Linked DNA regions of Homo sapiens. The protein of the gene in region 1 purifies or fractionates together with the protein of each later gene. This does not show direct contact. Each region holds a gene or a part of one and is shown on either strand. Other genes may lie near its edges.

What was found. The genes of interacting proteins can lie anywhere in the genome.
Region 2: the proteins of HAX1 (region 1) and SYN1 purify together in Homo sapiens (affinity purification with mass spectrometry; 3 studies listed by BioGRID and IntAct, with this or other methods). This does not show direct contact.
Region 3: the proteins of HAX1 (region 1) and HPCA purify together in Homo sapiens (affinity purification with mass spectrometry; 3 studies listed by BioGRID and IntAct, with this or other methods). This does not show direct contact.

What each region holds. Positions count from the first base shown.
Region 1 is NC_000001.11:154,267,950-154,275,631, forward strand, and holds the start of HAX1 (HCLS1-associated protein X-1), read left to right. Parts: upstream 1-4,679; 5' UTR 4,680-4,774; coding exon 4,775-4,827; intron 4,828-5,386; coding exon 5,387-5,649; intron 5,650-5,824; coding exon 5,825-6,012; intron 6,013-7,000; coding exon 7,001-7,052; intron 7,053-7,204; coding exon 7,205-7,311; intron 7,312-7,443; coding exon 7,444-7,534; intron 7,535-7,666; coding exon 7,667-7,682. Other genes in the region: UBAP2L (ubiquitin-associated protein 2-like), read left to right, coding at 808-1,005, 1,413-1,463, 2,251-2,346. UniProt on the Homo sapiens protein: Recruits the Arp2/3 complex to the cell cortex and regulates reorganization of the cortical actin cytoskeleton via its interaction with KCNC3 and the Arp2/3 complex. Slows down the rate of inactivation of KCNC3 channels. Promotes GNA13-mediated cell migration.
Region 2 is NC_000023.11:47,609,825-47,616,857, reverse strand, and holds part of SYN1 (synapsin-1), read left to right. Parts: intron 1-7,033. UniProt on the Homo sapiens protein: Neuronal phosphoprotein that coats synaptic vesicles, and binds to the cytoskeleton. Acts as a regulator of synaptic vesicles trafficking, involved in the control of neurotransmitter release at the pre-synaptic terminal.
Region 3 is NC_000001.11:32,889,491-32,895,179, reverse strand, and holds the end of HPCA (neuron-specific calcium-binding protein hippocalcin), read right to left. Parts: intron 1,657-5,689; coding exon 1,551-1,656; intron 1,416-1,550; coding exon 1,318-1,415; 3' UTR 534-1,317; downstream 1-533. Other genes in the region: TMEM54 (transmembrane protein 54), read left to right, coding at 247-375. UniProt on the Homo sapiens protein: Calcium-binding protein that may play a role in the regulation of voltage-dependent calcium channels. May also play a role in cyclic-nucleotide-mediated signaling through the regulation of adenylate and guanylate cyclases.

The DNA of each region.
Region 1 (7,682 bases):
TGCGATCTGGGCTCACCATAACCTCCGCCTCTCGGGTTCAAGCGATTCTCCTGCCTCAGCCTCCCAAGTAGCTGGGATTACAGGCATGTGCCACCATGCCCGGGTAATTTTGTGTTTTTAGTAGAGACGGGGTTTCTTCATGTTTGTCAGGCTGGTCTCAAACTCCTGACCTCAGGTGATCCGCCTGCATTGGCCTCCCAAAATGCTGGGATTACAGGCATGGGCCACTGCGCCCAGCCTTTTTTTTTCTTTTTTTTCTTGAGATGGAGTCTCCCTCTGTCTCCCAGGCTGGAGTGCAGTGGCACAGTCTTGACTCACTGCAACCTCCACCTCCCAGGTTCAAGTGATTCTCCTGCCTCAGACTCCCAAGTAGCTGGATTACAGGCGCCCGCCACCATGCCCGGCTAATTTTTGTATTTTTAGTAGAGACGGGGTTTCACCATATTGGCCAGACTGGTCTTAAACTCCTGACCTTGTGTGATCCACCCATCTTGGCCTCCCAAAGTGCTGGGATTACAGATGTGAGCCACCATGCCCAGCCTATTTGGTCTTTACAACAGGTTTGTAGCATCCCTGTTTTATATCTGAGGAAACTGAGGCTAAGAGATTGAGTAGTATGCCCAGGTTCACACAGTTCTTAAATAAGAGCAGAGCTGAGACTGAGACCTGAATATGTGACTTCAAGTGTACTGTGCCTTCTGTGACACCATGCTGCTTTCTGAGGGTCAGGGAGCTTGAGCTCAGGAAAAATCCCAAGACTAGTTTGCTGATCCCTTTTACTCTGTCTCCTCCTGGCCTCCTGGATAGCAGTCCTTTGAGAAACAAGGTTTTCATTCCGGTACTCCTGCTGCTTCCTTCAACTTGCCTTCAGCCCTAGGAAGTGGGGGCCCCATCAATCCGGCCACAGCTGCTGCCTACCCACCTGCCCCCTTTATGCACATTCTGACCCCCCATCAGCAGCCGCATTCTCAGATCCTTCACCATCACCTGCAGCAGGATGGCCAGGTAATAGCCCTTCCCCTTCTCTCCTTTCCCTTCCTCTTCCTTCCTATCCCTTAAAACTGCCTTCCCTTTCCTTTTCTTACCCTTCCTCACCACCACCTTCACCCAATCCCTCCCCAGCGCCAGTCATGGGCACACAGCACATACAGACACAAGCGCACATAACACGAGCGGCCGGCAAAGGAAATCTCAGAGAAGGGCCGGGTTGAAACCTTTTTTGCCCAATTCCTTTGGTGCCCTTCTCCTCCTGTGCCACAGTTGTCCTCATCCCATCAGACCTGGGTCACACCTTCCCTCTTTCCTCTCCCAGCCTTCCCTCTTCCCTGACATTTTAGCTTTCCCTTCTAATGGTGGAGTTCTATTGTCAAAGTTTGTCCCTTTATTTTCCATATATCCTGGTTCTGCCTCAGCTACCATATTTGCAGATGATTCTCTGTTGCCAGCGCCAGCAGGAGGAGCAGGTAATGAAATTGAATGATCATATGCTTGAACCCACTCCTTTTCAGTCCCCATTTCACCTTCACAGCCTCAGGGAACTTGAAAAGACTGCGCGGTCACAAATCGGGATACACAAACACAAACACCTTGCTGAGCTCTCTGGCCTCCCCTTCCTCTCTCCTCCTCCCCTCCCCAACACCCTCTTTATCTTTGTACCCTTCCCCAGCTGTGGAAAACATTCGGTTACCAGAATGGAAAAGATTCTTGGGGCAGCATCTGGAGCCTGAGGCCTCAGACTGCCTCTCATACCTGCCTGAAATGGGCTCACAGATGTGATGTGTGGTAGGGGTGGGGATCTGTGGGGCGATGCAAGTGGCCTCTTGAGAGCTCCATTATAGGTGGCTGGAGCTAGAATAAGGGCTTCCTTCCTCAAAGACAGCTTTCCAAATTGAGGCATTAATGGGGATCAATGGAAATGAAATTGCCTTGTGATCACCCATCTCCAAGAGCAGGGGAGAGAGGGGGTAGTGTGAGAATGTAGAATTGAAAATGAGTAGAACTCACTCACTACCTTGTCTCTAAAGGTATCTTGCCCTCTTCATCTTTTCCCTATTTAAAAGTCAAAAATGCCTTCCTGCTTGTAAGAAAGGGGCTTTAGCAGCTATGCAGACCAAATTTTCTATGGTTCTAATAGTAGTGAGGGGAATGGGAGAGCAAGACAGTTTGCACATCTCCACCTGAAGATGTTACAAATTTGTACCACTAACTAGACACCTTTTTCCTCCTCATGATCCTCCCATTCCCCTGCAGACGGGCAGCGGGCAACGTAGCCAGACCAGCTCCATCCCGCAGAAGCCCCAGACCAACAAGTCTGCCTACAACAGCTACAGCTGGGGGGCCAACTGAGGCCCTGACCCTCTTCTCCCGGTCCCATCTTCTGAGAGGGCTTCTCAGCCTGGAAACTATGGAAACAGCATCAAAGAGAAAGGAATGTGGGGGGTTTCCGCTGCCCCCCACCCCCAGCGGCCCACCCCATGCCTCAGCTTCATGTCTGTCCCATTCCTATACCATCCCCACCCTGTTGTATGTATTATAGGATTTGTATTTTCTCCTTTTTTTTCCCCCTTCCATTCCTTCTCCCCTCTTGCATTCAAGATTATGAAACTTTGCTATGGGCCCTGCACTTCCTTTGCTTCCTCCTGTTCACCCTGGTGGTGTACGGATGAGGCGGGGAGGTGGGACCCCCAAACATATATCAGCCCAACAGCCCTAAGTCTCCTTCTTTATTATTAGGAAAACAACAACAACAACAAACAAAAAAATGGCGTCATGAATATGAACAGCATTGTCAGATGAATTAGTTGAAGTGGTTTTTTTTTTGTTTTTTTTTTTTTTTTGTACTGTGTCCTCAAATTTAATGGATTAATGTGTCTTGTATATATAAAAAGAAAACCTCTACCTTCAGCCTCTGCCTATTCTTGCTCCGTCTAGGACATCCTCAATTTCGTCGATGACCAGCTTGGTGAATAAGTATTACTGTACCAACTGGGCCTCCTCTAGCAGGCCCCTGAAGGCAGTGGAATAAAATGAAATCTTCGCCCTTTAAGAACTCCTGACCTTAATGTGGTAGTAGTATCTTGTCCTTGAGGGGATTTCCTTCCCCTCACCCCTAAGACTTTCACAACCTGGTGACTGGAAAGAACCACCACAAATCTTCATTTCCTCCAGAAACTGCTACATCTACAGCCGATTTCAGGCAGTAAAGGGAGAGGGATAGAGGAGATTGGGTGGAAAATGGAGAGGATCAAGAAGGAGCTGAGACCATTTCAAAGAAAAAAAATGCTTTATAGAGTTTTAAGTATGACTTAGATGGGTCCAGGCAAATAAACTAAAAAGAAGTGAAGGCAACATGTATCGTCTGGCAGAACTAAATCTTGGAGTGGGGTGAGGGATGAAAGACTACATATTGGGTACAGTGTACACTGCTCGGGTGATGGGTGCGCTAAAGTCGCAGAAATCACTAAAGAACTCATCCATGTAACCAAACACCACCTGTACCCCAAAAACGAAATAAAAAAACAAAACCTTGGGGCCCATTCCCCCTAGGAATGGACTACTGTAGTAGTGGCTTCTTGGATGCTTCTCTGTGACATAGCTATACCCAATTCTTTGAAAAAGAATCTAGAGCAAGGTCTGGCTTGGGGATGGGGTACAGGGAGAGACAGGTCTCGGAGAGGTTTTGAACAAAACACTTTTAAAAAGGAATGAGGACAGGCGCTTTGGGAGGCTGGGTTGGGCGGATCACCTTAGGTCAGGAGTTCGAGACCAGCCTGGTCAACATGGTGAAACCCCGTTTCTACAAAAAATACAAAAGTAGCCGGGCGTGGAGGCGCATGACTGTAATCCCAGCTACTCGGGAGGCTGAGACAGGAGAGAACCTGGGAGGCGAAGGTTGCAGTGAGCCGACATGGTGCCACTGCACTCCAGCCTGGGAAACATGAGAGAAAACTCTGTCTCAAAAAAAAAAAAAAAAAAAAAAAAAAAAAGATACCAAAGGGATATTTCTTTATAACCCCCAATTTGTTCCTTCTCAGGACTCAACTAGCTTCCCTTCCCTTGCTTTCTTAAAAATCCTTTGTCTTGCTGGTTGCAGAGCCTGCTTAGAAAAAAGAATTCTATATAGTTATAACAAACTCCCTAGTAGCTAGAGAGGTGGAGGAAGTTAAGTCCATGCGTCTCTTATGTCTTGATCTCTTCTCTGGGAAATTCAATACTAGAAGGAGCTTGGAAAAGCATTTTGTTCATCCCTCTAACAGCAGACATCGCCCAGGTCAGTCAAAAAGAACGCCCGAGTAAGGAGCGAGGTGGCTTCTGCTGTGAGGCTGGCCAGCCCCGCGGGTGGGGTGGTTGAGGGACGCCCTCAAGCCGGTCCATTTGTGCGGCTGGGCTGCCCTCTGGCGGCTTTATCCGGGTGCCATCCAGAGTCAAACCCTCGAAATCGCTTTTCGTACTGAGTTGGTCTGCAGAAAGAAGAACAGATTTAGGAGGAAGGCGGTCATAGGAAACTGAAAGTGCGTCACGCCCACTCCCGTCACGGAAACTGGTCTCTGAAAGGTGGGGTAAAGATAAAGCCTTTCAAATTTGAGGAAGACCTTCGGTCCCGCCTCCATTTCACGTCCGGCTTACCGTCGTTTACGACAGTGTCAGGATCGCGGGCTTGCTTTCCGGTAGCGTGGGCTGACGCCTCGCTCAATTTCTCACAGGGCTGCGCAGGTTTCCCCCGTCTGCGAATGGACCACTGGAGGGGTTCAAAGGTTCGCGTCCCAGTACGGGAATGAGCCTCTTTGATCTCTTCCGGGGCTTTTTCGGCTTTCCTGGACCTCGGAGGTGAGAGTAGGTCCGGCTCGGACAAGGGTGGGGGTCGTCTGAGGGGAGCTTGACCCCTACGTCTTATTTTTGGAAAAACATCCTCTGTCCCACTCCTTCAACTCCTGCAGAGAGGACAGAAGTCGCAACATTGAACACTCACCCCGCCACAGTAACCAAGGCGGTCATTAAGAGGAGAAACAGCAAACTAAGCCTTTCTCCAACCTGGGGTGATGCAACAGGGACCCGGGCGGGGAAGACCGTGAGGGTCTGGGGAATAAGACAGTGAGCAAGTGAGCAGGACCTTGGGAGAGAGAGGAGGGACTGGGGCACACTGAAGAAAAACTGGGGGAAGGTGTATGAAGGGAGCTGCGAGCTGAGGTCTGACTTTGATTAAAAAAAAAAAAAAAAAAAAAGAACTGTCAGCCATTGTATTAATGTTTTGATGTGGCAGCCAGTCCTCCGACCCTCTCCCTAGCTTCCCAGACCCCTTGCTCTTGTCCCACTTTGCCACCCATGAGTTGATTTAATGGCTTAAATAGTGCTGAAATATTGGTGGCCAATCTGCCTCCACTCTCAGCCACAGAGATCCCTTTTTTGGAGGGATGACTCGAGATGAAGATGATGATGAGGAAGAAGAAGAAGAAGGGGGCTCATGGGGCCGTGGGAACCCAAGGTTCCATAGTCCTCAGCACCCCCCTGAGGAATTTGGCTTCGGCTTCAGCTTCAGCCCAGGAGGAGGGATACGTTTCCACGATAACTTCGGCTTTGATGACCTAGTACGAGATTTCAATAGCATCTTCAGCGATATGGGGGCCTGGACCTTGCCTTCCCATCCTCCTGGTGTGTGGCTTTCCCTAAGGGGCAACCTGTGGTTTCTGGTGGGTTGGTGGGTGAAATAAAGAGCCTGCAGGGAGTAGCTGGGGGATGGGAAGTGTGAGAAGACTGATGATTTCAGAGAGATTAATAGAGCCCAAGTCCTTTCCCATCCCAGCAAACACCTGCCACCTTTCTGCAGAACTTCCAGGTCCTGAGTCAGAGACACCTGGTGAGAGACTACGGGAGGGACAGACACTTCGGGACTCAATGCTTAAGTATCCAGATAGTCACCAGCCCAGGATCTTTGGGGGGGTCTTGGAGAGTGATGCAAGAAGTGAATCCCCCCAACCAGCACCAGACTGGGGCTCCCAGAGGCCATTTCATAGGGTGAGTATCCCATCTGGTCCTGAAGTGAGAGCTTGTGAGAGACCACTAATAAAGTGCAAAGACTGGCTAGGTGCGGTGGCTCACGCCTGTAATCCCAGCACTTTGGGAGGCCGAGGTGGGCAGATCACCAGAGGTCAGGAGTTGGAGACCAGCCTGGTCAACATGGTGAAACCCCGTGTCTACTAAAAATACAAAAAATTAGCCGGGCATGGTGGCAGGTGCCTGTAATGCCAGCTACTCAGGAGGCTGAGGCAGGAGAATTGGTTGAACCCAGGAGGTGGAGACTCCATCTCAAAAATTGTTTGAGACCCAGCCTTGCTCTGTTGCCCAGGCTGTAGTGCCGTGGCACAATCTCAGCTCACTGCAACCTCCAATTCCCAGGTTCAAGTGATTCTCCTGCCTCAGCCTCCTGAGTAGCTGGGATTACAGTCGCCTGCCAAACGCCCAGCTAATTTTTGTGTTTTTAGTAGAGATGGCGTTTCACCGTGTTGGCCAGGCTGCTTTTGAGCTCCTGACCTCAGGTGATCCACCCACCTCGGCCTCCCAAAGTGCTGGAATTACAAGTGTGAGCCATCATGCCTGGCCAAAGATTGCAATTCTTGTTTGAATCTGATAGCCTTGGGTTGGAATCCTAAGCCCTCCATTTAGTGTTTTCTGTTTTCTATATTAAGCTTGTGGGATTTTCTTTGGGGGGAGATGGGTGTTCTGTTTCTTTTAAAAAACAAAAACAAAAAAACACCACTGGTCTAGATAATTCTTGGATAAGGCAGGATTGTGCACAGAGGATAGGAATATATCAGTTCAGGAAGTCTTTCTGGTAGAAGGATACATAAAACAGCCAGGAAGGAGTGTGTAAATAAGGCTATTCTGAATGGAATTATCTCTTCTGTGGAAGGGGGTTTTGGAGCTCGGGAGTAGTTTGAGGTCTATGACCTTTCAAATTTCAGATTGGAAGGAGTCTTTTCACTTACTATGGTTTCTTCTGCAGTTTGATGATGTATGGCCTATGGACCCCCATCCTAGAACCAGAGAGGACAATGGTAAGTCTGGAGGAAGGGGAAGTTTACCAGCCTTTTGTTATTCTTCTGAAGTTCTGTGTGTTCTCCCTCCCTGAAGTTTCTTCCTGTACACTTGTCTCCTTTTTTCCTTTGGACTCTTTCTCTCCTGCTTCTTCATCTCTCTGCTCTTCCAGATCTTGATTCCCAGGTTTCCCAGGAGGGTCTTGGCCCGGTTCTACAGCCCCAGCCCAAATCCTATTTCAAGAGCATCTCTGTGACCAAGATCACTAAACCAGATGGGGTGAGTTGAAAGAAAGAGGTAAAGGAAAGTATGGCCAGGGAACGAATGCCCTGAAACAGGGATCTGTGTAAAGAAACTGCTGAGCATAACCTTTAGTAACATTCGGAATATGGTGGGGACTTCTCTTTGTAGATAGTGGAGGAGCGCCGGACTGTGGTGGACAGTGAGGGCCGGACAGAGACTACAGTAACCCGACACGAAGCAGATAGCAGTCCTAGGGGTGGTAAGTTAAAAGACAAAGGGGTTCATCTCAAGATTCCTTGGGGAAGGGAAATCTTACTCTTCTACCCTTGTCCTTTGCTTCTGCCTAGTCTCTTTCATTTAGCCTATTTACGTGTATGACTTTCTTCCTTAGATCCAGAATCACCAAG
Region 2 (7,033 bases), on another chromosome or scaffold:
ATCCTGAAAGCTCACAATGTGCACTGTTTTCCATTTATTCTAGCTAGGCCTCTTCCTCCACTTAGTAGCCATCTCCCCAGCTGCCTTTTTCTCCCCGAATTAGTCCAGAAAACACTTATTAATCTCTTACTGTATTATTTTCAAACAGCCACATTATCATCCCTGCAGCAGGCTTCTCCGCTTTTTTCTCTATCAATCTGTAAAGCATTTATGGAGCACGTGCTGTAATTCCTTCACCAACGTCCACTCACCAACGTGTTATCTTCCTGGTTAAGTTTGCTCCATTGAAGTCAGCAAACATCAATGAGGCCTCTGCTGGATATAGGTAATCACCCTCCTTTAGACTTCCGGTCTCCACTCCAGCCCTCCATGCAGGTCCTTTGCGTCTGCTTCCTTCTTTCCATCAAGCATTTATTATCTATGGAATACTGACAAGTCCCTTCCCCTTTCCATAATCACAAATTCAATGTTTTCCATTTTTTCTTTGTCCAGAAAACATTTATTGAGCACCTGCTGAATTCAGTGAAAGATCCATCCCTTCCCCTTCTGCATCTCAGAAGCCCCCCTTTATCCCAGCATCCCCTCCAGTCTTTTCTTCCAGGCAATCTAGCAAATATTTATTTAGTGTCTACTATATGTGGGGTGGGGTGGACAAAGGGACAGAGCCTATGTATGTACGCCAGGCTCAGTGTGGGGAACAGAGACCTGTTTTACCAACTTGCAGACACTCAGAACCACACTAGCTTCAGGGATTTCAGCCCCAAATAAAGCAGGAGTTGTGCAAACTCTGTGATGGAATGTACACCGAAATACAGTCTGACGCCTTTTCCACCAAACCTCACCACCCTCATTCCTTCCTGGGTCTCAATTCCTCTGTGGTTTAAAGTTGAAAACTCTAAGTTGAGACTCATCTCCCCCATTTTGTGGGTAATTTTGTCCTGTGTTTTTCTTTCTTTTTTTTTTTTTGAGACGGAGTCTTGCTCTGTCGCCCAGGCTGGAGTGCAATGGCACGATCTCGGCTCACTGCAACCTCCGTCTCCTGGGTTCAAGCGAGCCTCCTGAGTAGCTGGGACTACAGGCACATGCCACTATGCCTGGCTAATTTTTGTATTTTTCGTAGAGATGGGGTTTCACCATGTTGGTCAGGCTGGTCTCAAACTTCTGACCTCGTGATCCACCCACCTCGGCCTCCCAGAGTGCTGGGATTACAGGCTTGAGCCACCGTGCCCGGCTCTCTGGTGTTTCTCAAACTATGGGTCACCTATTGGCTTATGACCAGCATTTCACTTTCTTCTTGAAGTAGGATAAATAAAAATAGAGAATAACAGAGCATATTGCACATAGTAAATGGAGTTGTTGTTTAGCAAAACATATAATGTTATTCCATTAAGATATACAATCTGTAATGTATATTATATATGACATACGGTATGTAATACATGTGTTATACAATGGCTTTACAGTACATAATACATCTATATGTATATGTTCTTCTTCATGAAATGAAATAAAATAGCATAGAAAAATCAGACTGCATTACACATAGTAAAGGTAATTATCTATTGAAACTTTAATTCCAGTTATGCATATGTATTTATATACATTCTAAATACATATACACATAATATGTAATATACAACATTTTATATGTTACATAATATATAAGACATTCTATATTCTCATATTTGCTGTACAACATATGTGTCTTATATAATACATATATAGGATGAGTTATTATGCAAATACATATATAGTGGGTTATATAAGCTTTATTTCTTACTGTGGCTTCTTTTCTCAGATATATTTCCCTGGAAGCAGACCCCGAGACTCTGAGATTTGCATGCAGATTTACTGGGGAGAGCGCTTGGGAATAACACCTGTGGGGGAGGTTGTGAGGGAAGCAGGATTGTGCAGAGGGAAAAGTTGAGCTGTGATGCAACCACAAAAGAGGCCTCGGCCAATCCTCTGGGGAGCTCTGGCACTGGAATGACCCTTCAGAGTTGTCCCAGTTGAAGCGGGGTGGCCAGGCTTTGAATTCCTATGTCAGTCATTGGCTGTAGGCTGCCCCCTGGGAGGAGGCGTAATCTTGGGTGAGGCAAATCCCTGTTGCAGAGGCCAATGCCCAGTGAGGGACACCTATGAGCCATCAGCAGCGGATAATTCCAGAAGCTGAGGATAGATGCAAAGGTCTGGAACAAGGAGGTAAGGATCTGGGGGGAGCATATAGTCCACACCTTGCACTGCTCCGATCCACTTCCTTCTTATAGTAAGTTCACCCCATTGGGGAACGGCATTTCCAGAATTCTAATCGGTCTTGTTTTCTCAGGGACACTTGAAAGAGCACGGTAGTGAGATGAGCCATAGTCTCTGCTGCTGCAGTTGATTTCAACGTCATAAATGATATTCATCCTCTCCTTCTTTTGTTACCCATTCTAGATTCCCCCCACCCTCAGCTAGCACCACTCTTGGTCTGGGTGGCTCCCATCCTGCAGAGATCCCTGAGCCTTTGGTCCCCATGCCCTTCTCAGGCTGTAGCTGCTGTACAAACAACCACATTTCCCATTTACTATCAAAGTTGAGCAAGGAGTACCAACAGATGCCCAAGTGGATCCCCTGGGTGCCAGACATACTCCTCCCTGCCTCCACTGTGTACCAGCAGCTCTACCTCCTCCTGAGGAGCAAGGTTGGTCACGTCCCCTGCCAAGACAATGGCTCCTTTTTATGTCCCTTGGCATGAGAAACACGAAGTGCCCTGAGGGCAATCATAGCTTACAGTTTAATGGGATTCTTGCTGTGTCCCCTGGTAGCAGTGTTCCCCCTTGGAGAACCAGGACCTCTAACCTTGCAGAGCCCTGAGGGAACAGGAAGCACAATTTCAAAAGTGGATCACTGGGATTGCTGGTAAGCTGGGCCACTCCTTCCTAACCTCTGTGTCCCCAAACCGGTGTATTCTACCTGTTAGGAACACAGCACCTACAATGGCCATTGATTTAGGGTTGACACTGTTTTGGAGGATGGTGCCCATTCTTGCATGATCTCACCTTCAACCTGGGATCTTAGCTGTGGCTGCACCAAATTGTTCCATCATTCCATCAGGCCAGCAGCTCCCGGGTGGCGTGGTGTGTAATACCATCAGTTAATTCCATGGTCATGGGCCCACTTTTGCACCTCCTTTGCTTTGCATTCCTTTACTTTGCTATAAAGTGTGTCCTTTGGTTTGACGCAGTGTTATGCAGGGTCTCGTGCTGGTGGATCAAACGTTATGTAAGCCCTTAGACAGTGAGCTGGCTGAGGTCCTGCAGTAAGAAAAGGCAAACTCAAATATGGAATATTCCAGTCAAAATCGATTACTGTTCTTTGCAGGATGGAAGGGGCCCAATCTAATCAGCTTGCCACAAAGTGGTTGGTTGGCCTTCTGGAGGGATGGTGGCGTGTCAGGGATTCAATGTTAGTCTCTGTTGCTGGCAGATTGGACATTCAGCAGTAACACTGCTGCCCCCACACATAGCTTCTCTCTCTGCTGCTATTGCCACTTATTCATGTGCCCATCTGCTAACACTGGGGTGGCTGATTAGAGCCTGGCTGACATCATCGGGCTGACTCATGCTGTCTACCTGGTTGCCTAGTGTCACTTCCATGGCGCCATGGCAGATGCTGTCTGGTGGGTGTTAACACACGATCCAAAGATCCTCGCTCCTCCCTTTTTTTTTTTTTTTTTTTTTTTTTGGAGACGGAGTCTCGCTCTATTGCCCAGGCTGGTGCTGTGGCACGATCTTGGCTCAGTGCAACCTCCACCTCCCAGGTTGAAGCAATTCCCCTGCCTCAGCCTCCCGAGTAGCTGGGATTACAGGCGTGCGCCACCACGCCCGGCTAATTTTTGTATTTTTAGTAGAGATGGGGTTTCACCACATTGGCTAAGCTGGTCTTGAACTCCTGACCTCAGGTAATCCGCCCACCTCGGCCTCCCAAAGTGCTGGGATTACAGGCGTGAGCCACCGCGCCCAGTCTCACTCCTCATTTCTTGCCCACTCCTAGGTGTCTGCCCACATTTCTGTATCCCAGACCTCTTTGTCTGGATCTTCCAGTCTTTTTATTTCCAGGCCCCTGACCAACCAGCCAAACCATTTACCACTGCCCATAAGTGGATATATGTATTCTAATCTTGAGGCACTTCTCTTTCTGCACAAAGGAGATGAGCAGGTGCACAGCCTGAAGCTCTGCCCACTGGGAGCTCTGCCACTGTCTTTCAAGGCCATTCCAGTTGGGTTATAGTGCAACCACTGCCCATTTTTGGCTTCCACCCACATACTAAGACAACCAATTTGTGAACCAAGCTTAGACCTTTCCCTCTTTCATCAGCTAGTTTTAAGGAGTCCCCTTAGTGAGACAGGCACTAGCACAACAGTGTGGAAGACATGGGGATCAGGGTTACTTACCTGCTCATGCACCTTGCTTGGTTCTGCTTGGGCTCAATCCTGACTGCTGGGCCCACCTGACTTTATTATTTGGCGGGCCCAGCAGGACCCAGCTTATAATGGGAACTTCTGGATGCACAATCATTTGGTGCCTGGTCAAGCATTCTGTCTCTATCAGGGCCCAGCACCTCAATGGGGTGTCTTTCTCAAAAGGCGTAAAATTCTCTGCTGCAGATGGCATGGCTTTGCTCCAGAACCCCAAGGGCCTCCCACTCAGGCTTCCCATAAGCTCCTCACTGCATCTTTCCCCACTACTGACACCTCCAGTATCATAAGATCTGCCAGATCATCTGGCCTAAATGGCAGGACTGCTTGTACCACAGCCTGGACCTGCTGCAGAGCCCTTTTCTGCTCTGGCCCTCACACAAAGCTGGTAGCTTTACATGTCGCCTGGAATATGGGTCAGAGCATTATTTGTGTGTGGGGGACATGCTGCCTCCAGAATGGGAAGAGGCCTCCTAGGTATTGTGCTTTCCTCTTCATGGTGGAAGGTGCGTGATTCAATGCTTTGCTCTATTCTTTGGAGGGGCTGTCCTGGTTTACTGCCCTGGACCACTGGATTCCTAAAAATTTTACTAATGCATCGGTCCCCTGAGTCTTTGTGGAGTTTATCCTCCACCCTCTGTAGTGGATGTGTCTTACCAGGGCAATATGCTCACCCTCTCTTGCTCATCTTGCACAATCAGTATGATGTAATCCATGTGGTGGTCCAGTGTGCTATTCCATGGGATGTCCAGATAGTCCAGGTTTCTCTGGACTATATTATGACACCAGGTGAGAGAGATAGCATAGCCCTACAGCAAGACCATCTATGAATATTATCATCAGTCTCATGTGAGTGTAAACTGTTTCTGATCCTTTTTTCTAATCAGAATAAAAAAGAATGCATTTGCCAAGTCAGCAGCCACCTGCTGTACCTGAGGTCTTATTAATCTGCTCTGGCAATGACAGCGTGTCCAGTATGGCAGGTATAACTAAGGGTACTACTTGATTGTGCTTGCAGTAATCTGCAAGCATTCTCCAGGACCCATCTGACCTCTCCAGGGGCCAGACTGCTCAACTCGATGGAGATAAGATGAGACCAACACCCCTGCATCCTTTAGATCTTTCAATGTGGCATTGATTTCCATCATCACCCATAGGATGCACACAATATTGTTTGTGGTTTATTGTTTTGTTCAGGGCATGGGGGTGTGCGCCATTTTAGAAGCTTCTATTTGGACTTCCCTACTGAAACAGCTCTTATCCCACAGGCTGAGGAGCCCATGTAGGGGTTCTGACAACTACAAAGTATGCCATTGCAATTACGCATTTGTGAACTGAGGAAGTGACCACTGGGTGGGTCTCTAGACCCACCAGACCCACTGTAAGCAGGACCTGGGCCAGGACTCATTTATCACCTTACCACTACTGTGCTTCTCAGCGTGACTGGTACCACCCTCACCAGCATGTTTCTTATTAATTTCATAAGTTGAGTGTATCCTCCAGGCCTTAATCAGCTGGTGGGTTTTCCAGACTTCAGTAGTATATCTACTCCAACATGTCTGCTTCTTTGAGCCCTTTAATCCTTCCCTGTGCAATCTGCCATGGAAGTTCTGCTTCACTTAGTGTGGGCCATTGTTTACTCCAGGTTTCCAAATACCAGTGTGTTAGTAACACTTCCTAGAGTCCTCGCCAGGGTTTTAAGTTCCGTATCCTGGGAGAGCACACCAACTTCCTGTTCTACCTCCTTCGCCCATTGTCCTCAGGATCCAGTCTCATGCATACCTTCCCAGCTCCTGCCAATACGTACTAGCCAGATTCTTTAGGTTCTTCTACAGATCATTTCTCTCCCTTTGCAAGCCTAGAACCTGTCCAGTCAGGTTTCACTAGGATTTCACCCTAATTTTTGGTCTGGTTTCCAGGAGGGTAGGTGGGGGGTAGACTCTGAGGGGGGCAGGCATTGTCTTACAAAGCACCTGCATCATCCGAGGCCTCTGCATTATCTTCAAGCAGAAGGTCTATATTCTAACTCAGGGGAGTAGTCTACTTCAGCAGGCCCAGTGGATGCAGGTGAGTCTGTAAGTTCAAGGTGTTTAACTGCATCTGCCCAGATATCCCCATCTCAGAGTCCTACTCCTGTCCTATTAGGGACATGAGCATGGCCCAGGAGATGTGCTGGGCCTGAGAAGTCAACTTTCTCCGAAGCTCCGCCACCACGTAGAATTAAATTCTGAGCCTGGCCCTCCCTTCTGTCTGCCCTCTGACTGCAGGAGATGAGGGTTTCCTTAAATGCAGTCAGGGAGATCCTCTGGCTTTCACATTTTGCCTTGAATTCACCCTGAGCATGTCAGGTCTTTCTTCAGCTACTCAATGGCGTTTAGGGAATAGTCACCCAAGTCTGGTTACCATTTCCCTGACATCACTCAAGTTCCAGGGATATTTCACCATCCAGTACATTCCCTTCCACCAGAATCCCATTACAGCCCACCATCAGGAAAAGTCACCGCTACTCCAAAACCCTGGGGGCCTGCGCTGTATTCTCCCACCTGGGAGAAGAAATTCCACACAGCATCTTT
Region 3 (5,689 bases), about 120 Mb from region 1:
CCAGGAGCAAAGGGAGAGGCCTGGAGGCTGGGAGAGGTGAGATCTCCCAGCAGAGTCACACAGCTGACACCTGGCTCTCCTAGGGCCCAGGATGAGTCTTGAGGGAGGGGCAGGGGTGTCTGGGCTCGCACTGAGGGCATTGCAAAGGTCAGGCCTGGCTCTTGCAGTGGAGTGGGTAGTGATGCCCCTTTGCCCCCAGAGAGCCTTCCAGCCCTCACCTCCTTCCATTTCCCGGATGTCCTGGAGGAGGAGACCCAGGCTGAGAACCAGTGGGTCTGGCAGCCTCCTGTGTCTCTGCAGATGCGGGAGAACCCAGAGCTGGTGGAGGGCCGTGACCTGCTGAGCTGCACCAGCTCTGAGCCTCTGACCCTCTGAGAGATGATGTCCTGCCCAGGCCCGATGGCCACTAGGACCCTGCAAGCAACTCTGCTCTGTGACCAGGCCAGGATTCCTGGAGCTGGCCTGAGAGGGCTCAATGGACCCTCGGGGACCCAAGTGGGGCTTTCAACCCTCTCCCCCACCACCCAGCCCACTGCACTGAAATGAGACTTTATTCTGAAATTATTAAAAAGAACAGAGATGCTCCATTTGGCTGCATGCAGGGGGGGCGGTTGGGGGGACAGAGGGGAGGACAGGGGCTCAGCCAGGGGGACCGTGTCTCTTTCCCACGCAGGACACTGTGCATGGGGCTCTGGGTGCATCTGCCCATCTGTCTATGGGCCTGTGTGTGTGTGAGAGGCCAAACACAGAGAGCTCCGTGGGTCTGTGTGTATCCAAGTGCTAAAAGGCAGGCTGGCTTTCTGGGGCCCACAGCTGGCGGGCTAGTATCCTGGAAGGTTTCACTTGGTGGCTTGGCCTAGGGACCAGCAAGGGCTGGGGTGGGAAGGGTGGCTCAAGGAAGCCTCTTTCTCCAACTCCACACCCCTAGAATCCTTCTCTCCCCTCCAGATAAAAAGTCTCCTCCCCTGGGCATGACTCCCCCCACCCCGCAAGCTGAGACCTGCAAGAAGGGGACTGCCCCTTTGGGGGAGGGGTCGGGCCTTGGGGCTGGTGGGTGGGTAAGGGGGCCTGACTGAGGGGCAGACCAACCCAGCCTGTGTCTCTATTGTTGCCTCTGGGATTGGGGGGTGCTAACCGCTTACTTGCTTTGGCCTGGGGGTACCGCAGGGTTCCCTTTTCCGGAAGCCCCCCACAGGGCAGACCCGGGGAGAAGGGCTTCCCCAATCTGGCCCCCAGCCAGAATACACACAAGGGAGTGGAAGCTAAGAGCCGGGAGGGGGCCGGTGAAGGGAGGGAGGAAGGGGAACCTGGCTCCTCTCAGAACTGGGAGGCGCTGCTGGGGTCGCACTGCAGCAGACGCACGATGGACGGGTCGCTTTTGGCCCCGCGGATGAACTCCTCCAAGGACAGCTTGCCTGCAGGGCGAGGGGAGCGGTGATGGGGGAGGAGGCGGCAGCCTAGCGAGGGGAGGCGGAGCGGGAAAGGGAGGCAGGGAGGGAGGGAGGGAAAGGCGCCCGCCCCGTCCACCCCGTCCCGCCCCTGCCCCTCACCGTCGTTGTTTGTGTCCATTTGGCGGAAGATTTTCTCAGTCCTCTTTTCCGGGGTCGACTCGTCCTCCGGCATCTTCATCACGGACGAAACCATCTTGTAAATGGCCTGGGGGCGGGAGGGGAGGCGGGGAGTGAGAGGAGCCTGCCCGAGCCCCCACCCGCAAGATTCAGAGGCGCCCCCGGGCTCTCTGACGTTTGCTGCCCCCGCCTGGGCAAGGTGGAGTGGGGAATCACGGAGGCGTGGGGAGCCGAGGGCTTCGGGAAGGCGTGTCCGGGAAGGCCTCCCAGAAGAGAGGGCTATCGGGCGGGCCCTGCCGCGCTCCCTTGGAGGGCTGGGTGGGAAAGGAGCAAAGGCGCCGCAGGTGGAAGCTCCGAGCGGGCGCAGGGGTCAGGAGAGATGTTGGAGGACACCGGGGCCCGACAGTGGAGGGCCTGGAGCGGCGGGCTCAGGAGCGCGTGCCCCGGGGCACGCGCGTCGGGGGTAAGTACCGGGCTGGCACCCGGGCCCAGGGCGGCCCGCGCTCGGTGGTCGAAAGGGGGCGCCGGGCCAAGGGGGCGGCACTGCGCTGCGGGGCCGTCTGCTGCCGGCAGGGGGCGCGGCGCGGGCTGGAGGGCCAGAGGCAGCTGGGCCCAGAGGGGCGGGGAACAGTATGCAAATGAATGCAAATGAGCATCTGCAGCGGGCAGGGACCGCCAGGCTTGGCTAGGCTGGGCTGGGCAGAGGGCGGCAGCCGCCACGTGCAGTAGCTCCCGAGGCGACGTGAAAGAGAGTTCTTGCGCTAAATGTACAGAGCACGTAGGGCTTGGCCTGTAGCCTGGGTCGCAGTGCCTTGGAGCTCAAGGACCGAACCTGTCTCCTCAATCTTCCAGCTTTACCCGACCGACACTTCCTCCAAGAAGCCTCCCTTCTCCCATCCCATAAACTTCTGCTGCCTCAGATCCAGCTTCAGCCTCCACACTGGTCTCTTCCAGCCTCTGTCCCTCGGGTCTGTCCCCCATGCTGCCTCTGAAAGCTCTTTCCGAACACAGATCTCCACTGTTACGTCCCCAGCCTGCACACCACCCCCTCACTCCCGTCACACACAGGCCTCCTCTTAGGCCCGCCTTGCACCCAGCTCCTGCTGCTGCTTCCCACTTCTCCTTGGGGCTCAGTTTACAAGCTGTTTTCTTAGCGAGGTCTTCTCCAACCCAGGCTGGGTCAGGGTGCATATGGGCCCAGAGCCTGGCGGACTTTTCCTTTGCAGACATCTCTCCAGAAGTAATTATGTCTTTGCAGGGTTGTTCCTGCAAACATGGACGTCTAGCTAATGCCCATATCCCCAGAACCTGGGACCAGGCAGGGACTTCCCTATTTAAAAGCCATTGGCACTTCCCACTGCCCTCTGTACCAAGTTCAAACCATTCAGCCCTTGGGATTTAAGACGCTTTACAATCTGTCCACTGCTGACCCTCCTCCATCAGGTCTCCCCTGGCTGGGTGATTCTGCCAACAGCCAAACACCCCTGGCCCTTCAGATTCTCCAGCATTTACAGTCTTTGCCTGGAATAACGATACTAAGTACCACTTATCAGGGGCCCGCTCTGTGCCAAGTACTTCACATGCACTATTTCTAAACCTCACGCAAGCCCTGAAAAACAGGTATCATGATCCCCATTTTCCAGATAAGAAACTGAGGCTCAGAAGGAAATTGATGGCAGAGACTCGATTTGTACCTGTTCCCTCTTAGCTGCTGGAGGGATGCTTGGGCAGTGTGGGGTGGTGATAATCAGCAGGGCCTTTAGCATTAGACCCGGTCTGTAGTAACTGCTCAATGAATGGTAGCCACAGTTGTGACTGGATATCACTACCTGTCTGACCAGCACATGAATAGAGGGGTCTGGTAGTCTCAAGTTTCTAAAGTTAGATGGACCTGGAGTGGTGTCCTGGTTGAACTACTCACTAACTGTGTAGCCTTGGACATATATGTATCTGTGAGCCTCAGTTTCCTCAGATTAAATGAGATTATGTGTGAGGAACCGTGGCTGGCTAGAGTGGGTGGTCAGTAAACAGCAGCTCATATTATAGTCATTATTCATCCTCCACATCCTCAAGTCTTCCCTGCCACTCAGTAGTCCCCTGGTTCCCAGATGACACCTTTACACCCCTGTCACTGAGCTTGTCAGTGTGACCTACACATCTGTCTCCCCCACCAGAGTGGGAGCCCCAAGAGGCGCAGTCTCTTCCTCTCCAGTGTGTCCATTACCTGGCAGAGGGCTGGGTCTTGAGAAGAACTGGGCCAGTGACCAGTAACCCTGTGATAGCCTTCTCCTGGGCCTCCTAACTAATTGTCTGGAATTGCTGCTTACTCATGGTTTCATGGGAGCCAACTTGTCATTAATCAGGCACTGGGGCTTGCAGAGCTCTGTGTGCACCAGCTGTCTGGGGCCCCCGGGCCGCCCTAAAAGAAGCCAGGGTCTGGATAGCAGAGGCCACCAGAAAGGGGTCCTGAGGATGCCCAGGGAATGGGTCTAGCTTGACTGACACCCGGGCGTGGTGGCTCCAGCAGGACTGGGGTTTACCAGTACACACCAGTGCAACACACTAAGTGGTAAAATGCCAACATTCCTTCAGATAGTCAGTACCCAGCTGCTGTCCATGTCCGGGTGATCCTCCACCATTCTGGCCACCTGGCCCTACCATCAGGACCCCCAGATCCCCCTACCATCAAGCAACTAAAGAGTCAAATGCCTGGCTCACAGGAGTCCATGGCAAACATTAGGGCTTTCCCCTCTCTAGCCATAGGTATGGGGAGGGCATCACATCTCCACCTGGAGAGAAGACCCAGACCTTAGCAAGAGGAGAAGCCAAAGTCAAGAGTCCAGCAGTGGCTGGGGCAGCAGTCTGTGGAGCTGAGGGACCAGAAGGGAAAGGATTCAGAGATGCAGAAGGAAAGGGGGCAAGAGCTTGTGCAAAGCTGCGTGACAGGATTAGTCAGGGCACATTTCAAAGATGCTGAAAAGGCCCTTCTGGCTAGAGCAGAGGATGTGCAGAGGAGAAAATAATAACAGACAATTGCTAATGTCTACCAAGTACCAATTATATGCCAAGCCTTCCGCTCAAGTCCTTATCTCACTCTATCCCTGCAATAGCCTTGTGAGGCAGGGGATTAACACCCCCACTTTACAGGTGAAAAAATGTGTAAAGCCTTAGGAAAAAGGCAGATAAAATAGAGCCAGAGCCCTGGCCATCTTCAAGGCTGGGCTGAGGGGATGGGTGGTTTCTGAAATAAAGCTAACATGCAGCACACTTAAACTTGTACTAACAAAAGGCATTTATATCCGGTCCTTAAATCTCCTTGTGAAGTCAGTATGAGCGTACAGATGAGCAACCTAAGATTGAAGGCCACTTCCAGAACTGGAAGCCAGACCTCCTGGCTATGAGTCCAGAGCCCTCTCAGTAGACAGCTCTAAGTAGTGGCCAGCCAGAGCTTTTCTCCACTTATGTGCTGTGTGATTTTGGGCACATCACCTCACCTCTCTGAGCCTCATGGGGTTGTTGTAAGCACGCACTGAGCTCATGAGCACCTCACTCAATGCTAGGCTCATAGTGGGCCCTCAATCAATTAGTTAGAAGATGGCTGGGTATCCAGATGGAATGTAGACAGTGGTGCCAGATGGCCCACTCACACAGGCTGTGTGGCCTCAAGCAAGTGCCTTTATCTCTCTGAGCATCCGTTTCCTCTGGTGTAAATGAGGATCAACTAGACATAGCTGGACTGTGCTCTGCAGAAATGTCAATTCATAAAAGATAAAGAAAGGATGAGGAGCTATTCCAGATTAAAGGGGGCTAAAGAGACATGAGAACTAGATGCAATGCATGACCCCAGGTCAGGGCCAAAAATGCTATAAAGAACATTATGGAGACAGTTGGCAAAATTGGAATATGGTTGGTAGATTAGATAATAGCATTGTTTCTATGTTAAATATCCTGGCTTTGGTAATCATATTATGGGTTATGTAAGAGAATGTGCTTATTTTTAGGAAATATATCCTAATGTATCCAGGGGTAAAGGGCCAATGTTCAGAACAGCAAGAAAATGTTACACACTAGTGTGCACACACGCACACACACACTGATAATGATGAAGCAACTGTGGGAAA